Linked DNA regions of Homo sapiens: region 1 is linked to region 2. Evidence: fine-mapped expression QTL. A gene starts in region 2. The other region holds a variant in brackets. All regions are shown on one strand. Distances are between the middles of the regions.

Region 1 (4,399 bases), 190 kb after region 2:
ACTGGAGTGTACATCCATCTTTTTCCTTTCACAGTTCTTGGAAATCTAGGGGGAAAATGGCCCAGTGGAGAGAAAGGACATGACAAAGACCAATGTAATGAGTGGTCTGGAAAATCTACAATCCATGTAATCAATACAGTCAATGTCTTAGTATTCAGGAGTTGCCTGGAATATATTCTTAATATCCACATTTCTCCCATATCCTGAAGAAACCCCTTCTTTGATGAAAAACTAAATATAAAACAAATACTTTTTTTTCTTTAAATTATTAAAGACCCTGTTTTGATAGAAAAAGCAGGTGATTTGGAACCAGTAAACTTTATTTTTTTTTCTAGTTCTACCAAAATTAATTGTATGGCCTTGGGCAAGTCGTTTAATGTTTCTGAGCTGCAGAATTCTCATCTGGAAAATGAGAAGGTTTTTTGGGTGACTTCCATCAAGACCTTTTTTGACAAGAGGCTATGTTCTCCATTCTATGGTTTGGCGTTGACACTGGCCTAGATTTATTATTTTTATAATGCTATTTTTGCTTGTGTAGACACCTTTCTGGATTCACTAATCATTCTTTGAACTGATGGTAATTTATTTTGACTGTATTGATTACTGTAAGTGCCATTCATTCTTCGTGATTAAGAAAAAAAAAGAGCATCCTTTGCTTCTATTCTGTTTATATCTTTTTTAAGGCCATATTGCTCATCTTTTTAATCTCATAAATCTAATATAGCAATGAGAATTGGTGAGAAATGCAAACATAATGAACAAAACAAAATACAAAAACGAAAGGAAGCTGGCTGTGTGCAGTGGCTCACACCTGTAATCTGTAATCCCAGCACTTTGGGAGGCTGAGGTTGGTGGATCACCTGAGGTCAAGATTTCGAGACCCACCTGACCAACATGGAGAAACCCCGTCTCTACTAAAAATACAACAATTAGCTGGGAGTAGTGGCAAGTGCCTGTAATCCCAGCTACGCGGGAGGCTGAGACAAGAGAATCACTTGAACCCAGGAGGCAGAGGTTGCGGTGAGCCGAGATTGCACCATTGTACTCCAGCCTGGGCAACAAGAGTGAGACTCCTTCTCAAAAACAAAACAAAACAAAACCAAAAACAGAAAAAAACAGAAGGAAGCAAACAAACTAACAAAAAATAAAGCCAAGTATCATAGACTAAAGAATCCAAAACAACATTTGACTGTCCAGAGGGGACTAACAAGGGTCCCTGGCTTCAATTACCTACCAAATGACATCAGGTGAATATGCTCTAATTGGCTTTATGAAAAGTATTTCATTCCCTGACTATTTTTGGCTTTCAGTAAAATGTCTTTGCCTCAGCAGTTGACTTTGTTATATTCCAACATCTTCTCATACTATTTTCACCTGCATATGTTTTTTAAGCTGCCCCTTTCCTGGACATCTTGAAGGACACTTCAGTCAGAATTGAAGATGACTTTGTATAGCCCCCAATCCAGGATGCATGACTGTTCACTCATCGCTGAAATCCACTTGTCCACCAGGAAAAGGCAAGCTGTGTCAGCATGCCATAACTTTCTTTTTGAAGAGGAAGAAGAGATGAATCTGTCCAGTTGTTATGGCAAAGGGAATTTAGAAAGGTGGATGCAAGCATCCCACATGAAATTTGGGAAGCAGAGAAAAAAGATGGCCTTCTGATCTTTAACAGTGCTTTTCATGGTGAAGAAATATTCAGAAGCTTTAGTGCCTATATGCTCGTGAAGACATAGACTTTTGACTTTCTAACTCAATGTTTTCCTTTCAGTTATGTTTTATATTGTAGTCTGATAATGTTTTCTACTAATTGCACATTGGTCTCCAATTCCTTTCAAACAATTCTATGCTTTATTTGAGAAGCCTTGCCTCTTTTTTTTTTAAGCATCATCTCCTCATATGTAAAAGTGAGGTTTTAAAAAAAA[G/T]GTAAGAAAAATTATCCAAAAATCGACATATTACTTGGAAATGTATAATGTTCTGCTATATAATTTTCTGTGCCTTTCAAGGTACAGAAATCAATCAGAGTTCTATGTCATTTGGGCGGATTCCTGTGCACAAGAATTTTTCATAATATATCAAAATTAAAGATACTCATGTTAATTTGTCTCATATCTGCCTCTGGAGGATCCTCATCATTTTATGGCCATCATTGCAAGTATATTCTTCATTCTGCTTCATTCAGTCATTAAAAACATCTCTTTAGTATCCACAATATGACAGATAACCGTGCCAATGCTGAGAATACAAAGATGAAAATTCAGGAATTCTTGACTCGTTTTGACACCTTCAATTGGCAACTTTGGAAGCATTTGTTGAAAATGAGGTAATGTACTTACAAAATCATTAATTTTTTTAAAGTTGAACAACATAGATTGTTTACATACAAATTTGCTTTGAGAAAATTTCAGCTTGCTGGGTAAAAATAACCCAAAGTATTTTCATTTATTTAAATGGCTTACCATTAATGATTTATTCCAATATAGAACACCGATCATATATATATATATACACACACACATATATATACACATATATATGTATATACACACACACACAAATTGGTGTTTTTTATATATATACACACACATATATAATTATATATGTATGTATGTTATATAATTATATATTTACACATATACTTGGTACACACACACACACACACACACACACACACACAGATATATATATTCCCAAATAGTTAAAAAGTTATTTTTAGTTCTTGATTAAACTGTTTTCATACATGCTTTTTTCTGGGTCACAAGACATCTGCTCACATCTTTAAAATTAGGGGGAAAATGGAATGCGTGCATGTATGTGTGTGCATGTGTGTATGTTAAAGAGTATTGCATCCTCACATACAATTGAAAAGGCTGCCAGTTCTGCCAGTTATAGGCCAAAATTTATATTTGGCTTTGAATTACTCATTCATTTTGTGATGAATCAGAGATGAGAACAGATTTAGCATAATTATAGTTACTCAATATTTTAATACATCCTTTTAAATGGAAATGGAAGGTAATTTCTATCATATACACCTGTCCTCTAAGTAATTTAAATTTTGAAGTGATTTTAGGACTCTGAATTTACCACGCCCCTAGTTTTTGATCTTTTTCATTTTTGTAAAATGTTTGAAATTTGTTTTCTGAAATGCGTCTTTACTAGTAAAAGACAAATTTCCCTAAAAAGCAAAGTATTTTATTCTTTACTTATCACTGAGTTCAGTTCAAACTTGACCAGAAGTCTAGGATTGGAGATTCATGCTTTGGTTCAGAGCTGAAAATGTGCAACGGTAAGATCCTTTCCTGCTCTAGGATTCTAACATACATATGAGAATCCCTGGTGTCATGAAAAAAATTTGTTGAGGTTGTTATTGGGTTAGCGATTCACACCAAGTAACAGGGGAAGGGAGGTGAGTAGTGCTGAGGGGAAGCAAAGATAACTTCTTCAGAACCAAGTATGGGGTCTTCTTCCCTCTCAGGGGTTAAAGTAATTTTGGCTCAACCCAAGCTGAGATCTGAGAATTCAGAACTCTTTCACAGCATCAGTAACTTCCAATGTATTCTTTCCTTGTAGTTTCCTTTCAGTTTTTTTCCACCAGTGTTTTAAAGTTCAGTTTATTAATAGAAAGTTTGAGATACAGCAAGGGCAACAGATCAGGAGACAATTGTCATTGAAAAGATAGTTTGTTGCTCACTGTTCTCAAGAGGAGGGGGCATGGTGCCATGGGGGCCACAGGAGAAGCACCAGGGTCAGGCTGGAGGCAGACACGGCGGGGGTCACTTTAGGCAAGAGCCTTTATTGTGGTTTCTGCTGGAAGAAACAGCCAAGGCAGGATAAAATGGTGAAGGATTGTCTAGTTTGAATAATTCCAGGCTCTGAGTCATAGTAGCTGTTTCGAGTTGCCTAATCCCTGGCCCTGGGATGTTTAAGGTGGGTGGATAGTGGCCCAGAGCCTGACAAGAAAGGTAGTTTGGAGGTGTGGACCATGGATTGTTTGGTCCTTTGAAAGGTGTACTTAGGGGTGAATTGTTTACTATCCCTAGGAATTGGCTAACCCTGGGAGAGGTAGCCCTTCAGGATCAGCAAGACCCCATACATCAAAGCATCAAAATACGGAAAACAAAAAGTCATGGTTAATACAATTAAGTTTGACTTTTTATCTTGTTTCTTCTTTGGACTGGGACCAAAACTATAGTCCCTTCATCAATTTTCATATAAGTTCCAATCACAGTGAGAGTTTTGGTAGTTTAGGCTTGAAGTGTTTTGGAAAGACATAAGGAATTATAAACAATGATGGACATTCTCTCCTTTTCTGTCTTTCTCTAGCTCTGTTCTCCCTCTCCAGTGCAACCAACAAATTCTCCTCCTTATCGCTGGCAGGGCAAATCCTTACATTTAG
Region 2 (4,399 bases):
CTCCTTTCCAGTTGCATTTTACTTACTACACAGTGCAGCTATCCAATTTATACCTTATTTAAATCCTTGCCATAAAATAAGCTATTACAAATTTTGTTTAGGGGCTTAAGAGGGTTACTTCTTCCAATGGTTAAAATTATTTCAACCTCTTTATGATGAAAGAAGAGTAAAGGAAACAATGTCCGTTGAGCAAAGATATTGTTTAATTTTTCCGCTACTGTTTCTTCTACAGAATGGGCAGAACTCACTCTGGAAGAGCTGGTGGGAATAATGCCATTTGGGAAGCACACAACATAGGCAGCACAGTGGAGCACAAGAAAGTCCGGAGCTGTTAGCTCCCAGGTCCTGAAGGAATGAGAACTTTCACCGGAGTCTGGATTCCACTGTAGACAAAATCCTCTCTGCATCGCCAAATGACTCTTATTTTCCTAAACTTACTCTAAGAATATCTTTTAACAGCAATTTGAATAAACCGACTCACATGCCACTGTGATTTAATGTGTGATTTGCTGCCGAATCAGCTGTGTTTGGCCAGCCCTTCTGTCTTCACATTTTTCATAGTGTTTATCCTTAAGCTTAGCAACCAACCAAACTTCGAGTGGAATATCAACATTCAAGAGTAAAATGTATTATTAGTTTTCTAATTGTTCCACAAGAGATTGAGTTTGTGTAGTTTACATTTTTGCACTTTCTGTTTTACTTATATCCTCAACGCATGAAATTTTGGCCTGTTCCCCTTTACTATTCACAAACTTCCAAACACTGGTAAAAATGCCTTTGTGTGTCTTTAATTCACGTAACAGATTTGTGTTATGTTAAATGTTAGTGAATATATAAACCTAAGAATACAAGGATAATTTTGTTAAAGAATCAAAAAGTATCAGGACATTCGTTTGTCTTATGGCAGAGACAAATTGAAGTTCCCCACCAAGATATACGTATTTTGGATTTGGGCCAGACAGCTAAAAAACCTGTTTCAACTTAAAACCCAAAAAGGTTTTAAGTTGAAAAAATAATGCTGACTTTTGCTGAAAGTAAATTTTAAACAAAGGTTTTTTTTTTTAATTTACTCCATTAAAAATGCATACATTTGGACAGAGCGAGACTCTGTCTCAAAAAAAAAAAAAAAAGCATACATTTGTAGTCACAGAATTAGTTTTTGTTTTGACCTTGAAAAGGACTTGAAAGTATTTACTCCAAACTTACTTTACACATACTAAAAATATAGTTTTTGAAAAAAGAAAGTTGATGTGGCTTTTCAGACAAGGGAATGGTAGGTAATGTTTTGCATCAGCTCCGGGTCTTGGGTGATCTCCACCAATCAGAGATCCTTCAGAGCTCGTAGGGTCTAGAAAGATCATTATTTTACACCCTCATTTTACAGACAAAGAACCTGAGACCTGCTAGAGTAAGTGACTTGGTTAAGATAGGGAGCGCTCCAGAGACCAGGTCCAAGATCTTCCCCCGTTTCACAATTAGAAGGCGGCTGTCTAGAGGTCATTCCCTTCCTTATGATCCTCATAAAGTTAATTTCCAGTCTCTTGGAGAGAGAACTGGACGATCGCCTGGCTTAGAAGTTTTCCTCCCTCCCCGAACCCCGTTTTCTCTTCCATTTCTTCCGGTCGCGTGTCCCCAGCGCCCACAGGTGGAAATCAACCGCCCGCGGGGTTGCGGGGCACAAAGAGGCAGCTAGCGGCTCCGCTGACCCCTTCCCGCCGGCCTGGACGAAGTCTGGGCTCGGGAGCCGCGTGATGCATCCCAAAGAAGGCGCAGAACAGCACGTGTTCTCCCCGGTGCCCGGGGCTCCCACACCACCGCCCAATCGCTGCGGCCGCCTAGTGCTCGGGCCGCGCCTGCCGGCCGCGGGGACTCCGGGCCCGGGTATTCGCGCCGCCGCCGCCCGCCATGCGCTTCCGCTTTGGGGTGGTGGTGCCACCCGCCGTGGCCGGCGCCCGGCCGGAGCTGCTGGTGGTGGGGTCGCGGCCCGAGCTGGGGCGTTGGGAGCCGCGCGGTGCCGTCCGCCTGAGGCCGGCCGGCACCGCGGCGGGCGACGGGGCCCTGGCCCTGCAGGAGCCGGGCCTGTGGCTCGGGGAGGTGGAGCTGGCGGCCGAGGAGGCGGCGCAGGACGGGGCGGAGCCGGGCCGCGTGGACACGTTCTGGTACAAGTTCCTGAAGCGGGAGCCGGGAGGAGAGCTCTCCTGGGAAGGTATTGCCAGCAGACGCCTGCCCCCGGCGCAGAGCGGGAGCTCCGGCCCGCACCCCCAACCGGGGCCTCGGCCTCGGGCAGGCCCCGCAGGCCCCGGCGGCGCGCGTCCCGGGCTTTTTGCCCGCGTCCCTGCGCACTCCCCGGGCGACCTGGGCTGACCCTGCTCTGCCGGCCACGCTGTCGCCGCCAGCCGCGCCTCCGGCTTCCTACTGATTCCCTAGACCCGTATAGCGCTCCCGGCCGCCTTCCCGCCCACTCTGTTGCCTGCCCCTCTGACCTGGTTTCCGCACATCCAGTCCTCAGCTTCTTTCCAACCGCGCCTGCGTCACGGGCCAGTGCCCTTCGTCTCCCGCCCGGGGCTCCCTTCGCCCTCCGAGTGCCCCTCGACCTCCGAGTCCCCCCCTTCGCGGGTCCCTTGGCTGCCCGGCCGCGCGCCGCTGATGGCTTCAACAGCCCAACTCCGCCTTGGTTGGGTTTTGTGTCCTCATTTTCCTGCTCTAATTCACTAAAAAAAACCCAAAACGATCCAACCAACGAAACTAGCGTTTTCGCTAATCCTAGACAGCAATGTGCTACTTAGATTTTTTTCATAGATATTGAGAATGAACTAATGGAAAAACGTTGAATATTTCCCTTTTTGGATTTTTTTTTCTTTTTTAATCCCAGATATATGACAATTGAGACATGACCTGATTTCTTAAAATACTAAAACAATACATGCTGGTTGTAAAATAATAATAAAGAAATGTACATAGTGAAAACTTACAGTGTTTCCTCCACACATCTTAAGCACACTGCTTGTACACATTTATGTATGTGATATATGCATATACTTTTTTTTTTTACAAAAATTGTATAGTAATTCTGAATTTTTGCTTTTCTTGCCTAACAATATGTTAGGGACATCTTTCACTGTCACTACACGTAGATATGTATTTTACATGTAGATGTATATTTTAAATGGCAACAAATTATTCTGCATCTACCAATGTGCATTTAGGTTCTTTTCAGTTTTCCTCTGTCGTAAACAGTAGTGGCTTAATTGAAATTCCTTTTACAGATATCTTTGAACATTCGGGAGTGTTTCTGCAGAGTGGATTCAAAGAAGTGAAATTATTAGGTCAAAATGCAGTCATTTTTTTTAACACTTCATTAAAGACTGCTAAATTATGCCCTAAAAGGGTGATTATCTAATGTCGGCTCCCGCCAACAGTGTCTGAATTGAGACAGCTCCTTTCTTTAAAGGAAATGTGCAAGGTTGTAGACTGGAGTGGGTGTGACTCAATAGTTGAAGTCAATGAAATGAATGTCTCTTTAGAAGTTTATATGAAAAAAAAAATGGGCCATTTAGCCTGTAATGATGTAGAAACAAAGAATCAGTAAAGAAGATTAGAGTGGAATGTGTTTATATATTATCCTTGTTCTCCTTCTCTACCTCACTGGGCTTATGGTCTGGTAGCATTTATTGGTCTGTTATTTTACCATGACAGAATTGAAAGATACCCTCTTCAGTTTATCCTTTCTTTACAGAGTATTACTATTTTTCATAGTATTGTAGAATTATTTTTTAAAATAATATCTGATAATTGTAATAAAAATGGAAATGGTGTGAAACAAAGATCTTCCCTTTCCCTAGTTATTTAGCTTTTCTGATAGTCCTCCCTATGCCGTTAATAGTTTGCTTATGTTGCTATTTCTTAAGGTACCACAAACTTTTGTTTTTAATTTTTCTAATAGTTACCATATAAGTTATATATAATTTTAAAAGTTAAAATTAGGCAATAGATATTGACACCTACTGGATGCTCATAAAATTAACCATCACACTTGTTATGAAATATGAGGAATTTAGCTCAAGTTCACTCTCTGTCTTCCCTGCTGATTTTTTTTTACTATTATTTTCAGTTTTTTTGATAAATATTTTTCTTTACTATCCAAGCAGGAATTATTTTCAGTTTTGTATTAAAAATTGACTGTTGACTTTCTAGGAAGTTACTCCTATAAGAGAGGATAAGAAAAATATTACAATTTCTTCCTGTCTCACTTTGGTTTATTATGACTTTTACATTATCAAGTTTTATATAATTTATATTCTATTTTCTAATTGTTACAGTGCCTTCTTGTTTAAGGTAAATAGACTGATTCTAAACATCGTAAATTAACAGAGAGCTTTATGAGAAGCAGGGTAGCCAA

Which allele goes with the higher level. Positions count from the first base shown, and alleles are read on the strand shown. Sizes are in standard deviations (SD) of each study's normalised expression.
For the expression in Th2 cells of the gene that starts at base 1,884 in region 2, allele T in region 1 goes with a lower level than allele G (large effect, 1.3 SD a copy in Schmiedel 2018).

The links. PIP is the estimated chance that this variant, and not a neighbour inherited with it, causes the effect. A credible set is the group of variants that fine-mapping cannot tell apart.
Region 1: its variant is the best candidate, but not a certain one, in a credible set for the expression of EPM2A in Th2 cells (Schmiedel 2018, PIP 0.70).

The regions. Positions count from the first base shown.
Region 1 is chr6:145,539,456-145,543,854 of GRCh38, reverse strand. It overlaps a transcript of EPM2A not described here. Among named protein-coding and RNA genes, the nearest start is that of EPM2A-DT, 190 kb to the left of the region's middle. The variant G/T (reference allele first, on the strand shown) is at 1,926.
Region 2 is chr6:145,733,005-145,737,403 of GRCh38, reverse strand. It overlaps EPM2A (EPM2A glucan phosphatase, laforin), which reads left to right and starts at 1,884. Exons shown (of 4, transcript NM_005670.4): 1 at 1,884-2,206. The coding sequence starts at 1,906. EPM2A-DT (EPM2A divergent transcript) reads right to left here and starts at 2,535. Exons shown (of 3, transcript NR_038246.1): 1 at 2,484-2,535. RefSeq lists enhancers at 1,470-1,519, 1,540-1,589, 1,600-1,659 and a silencer at 1,820-2,409.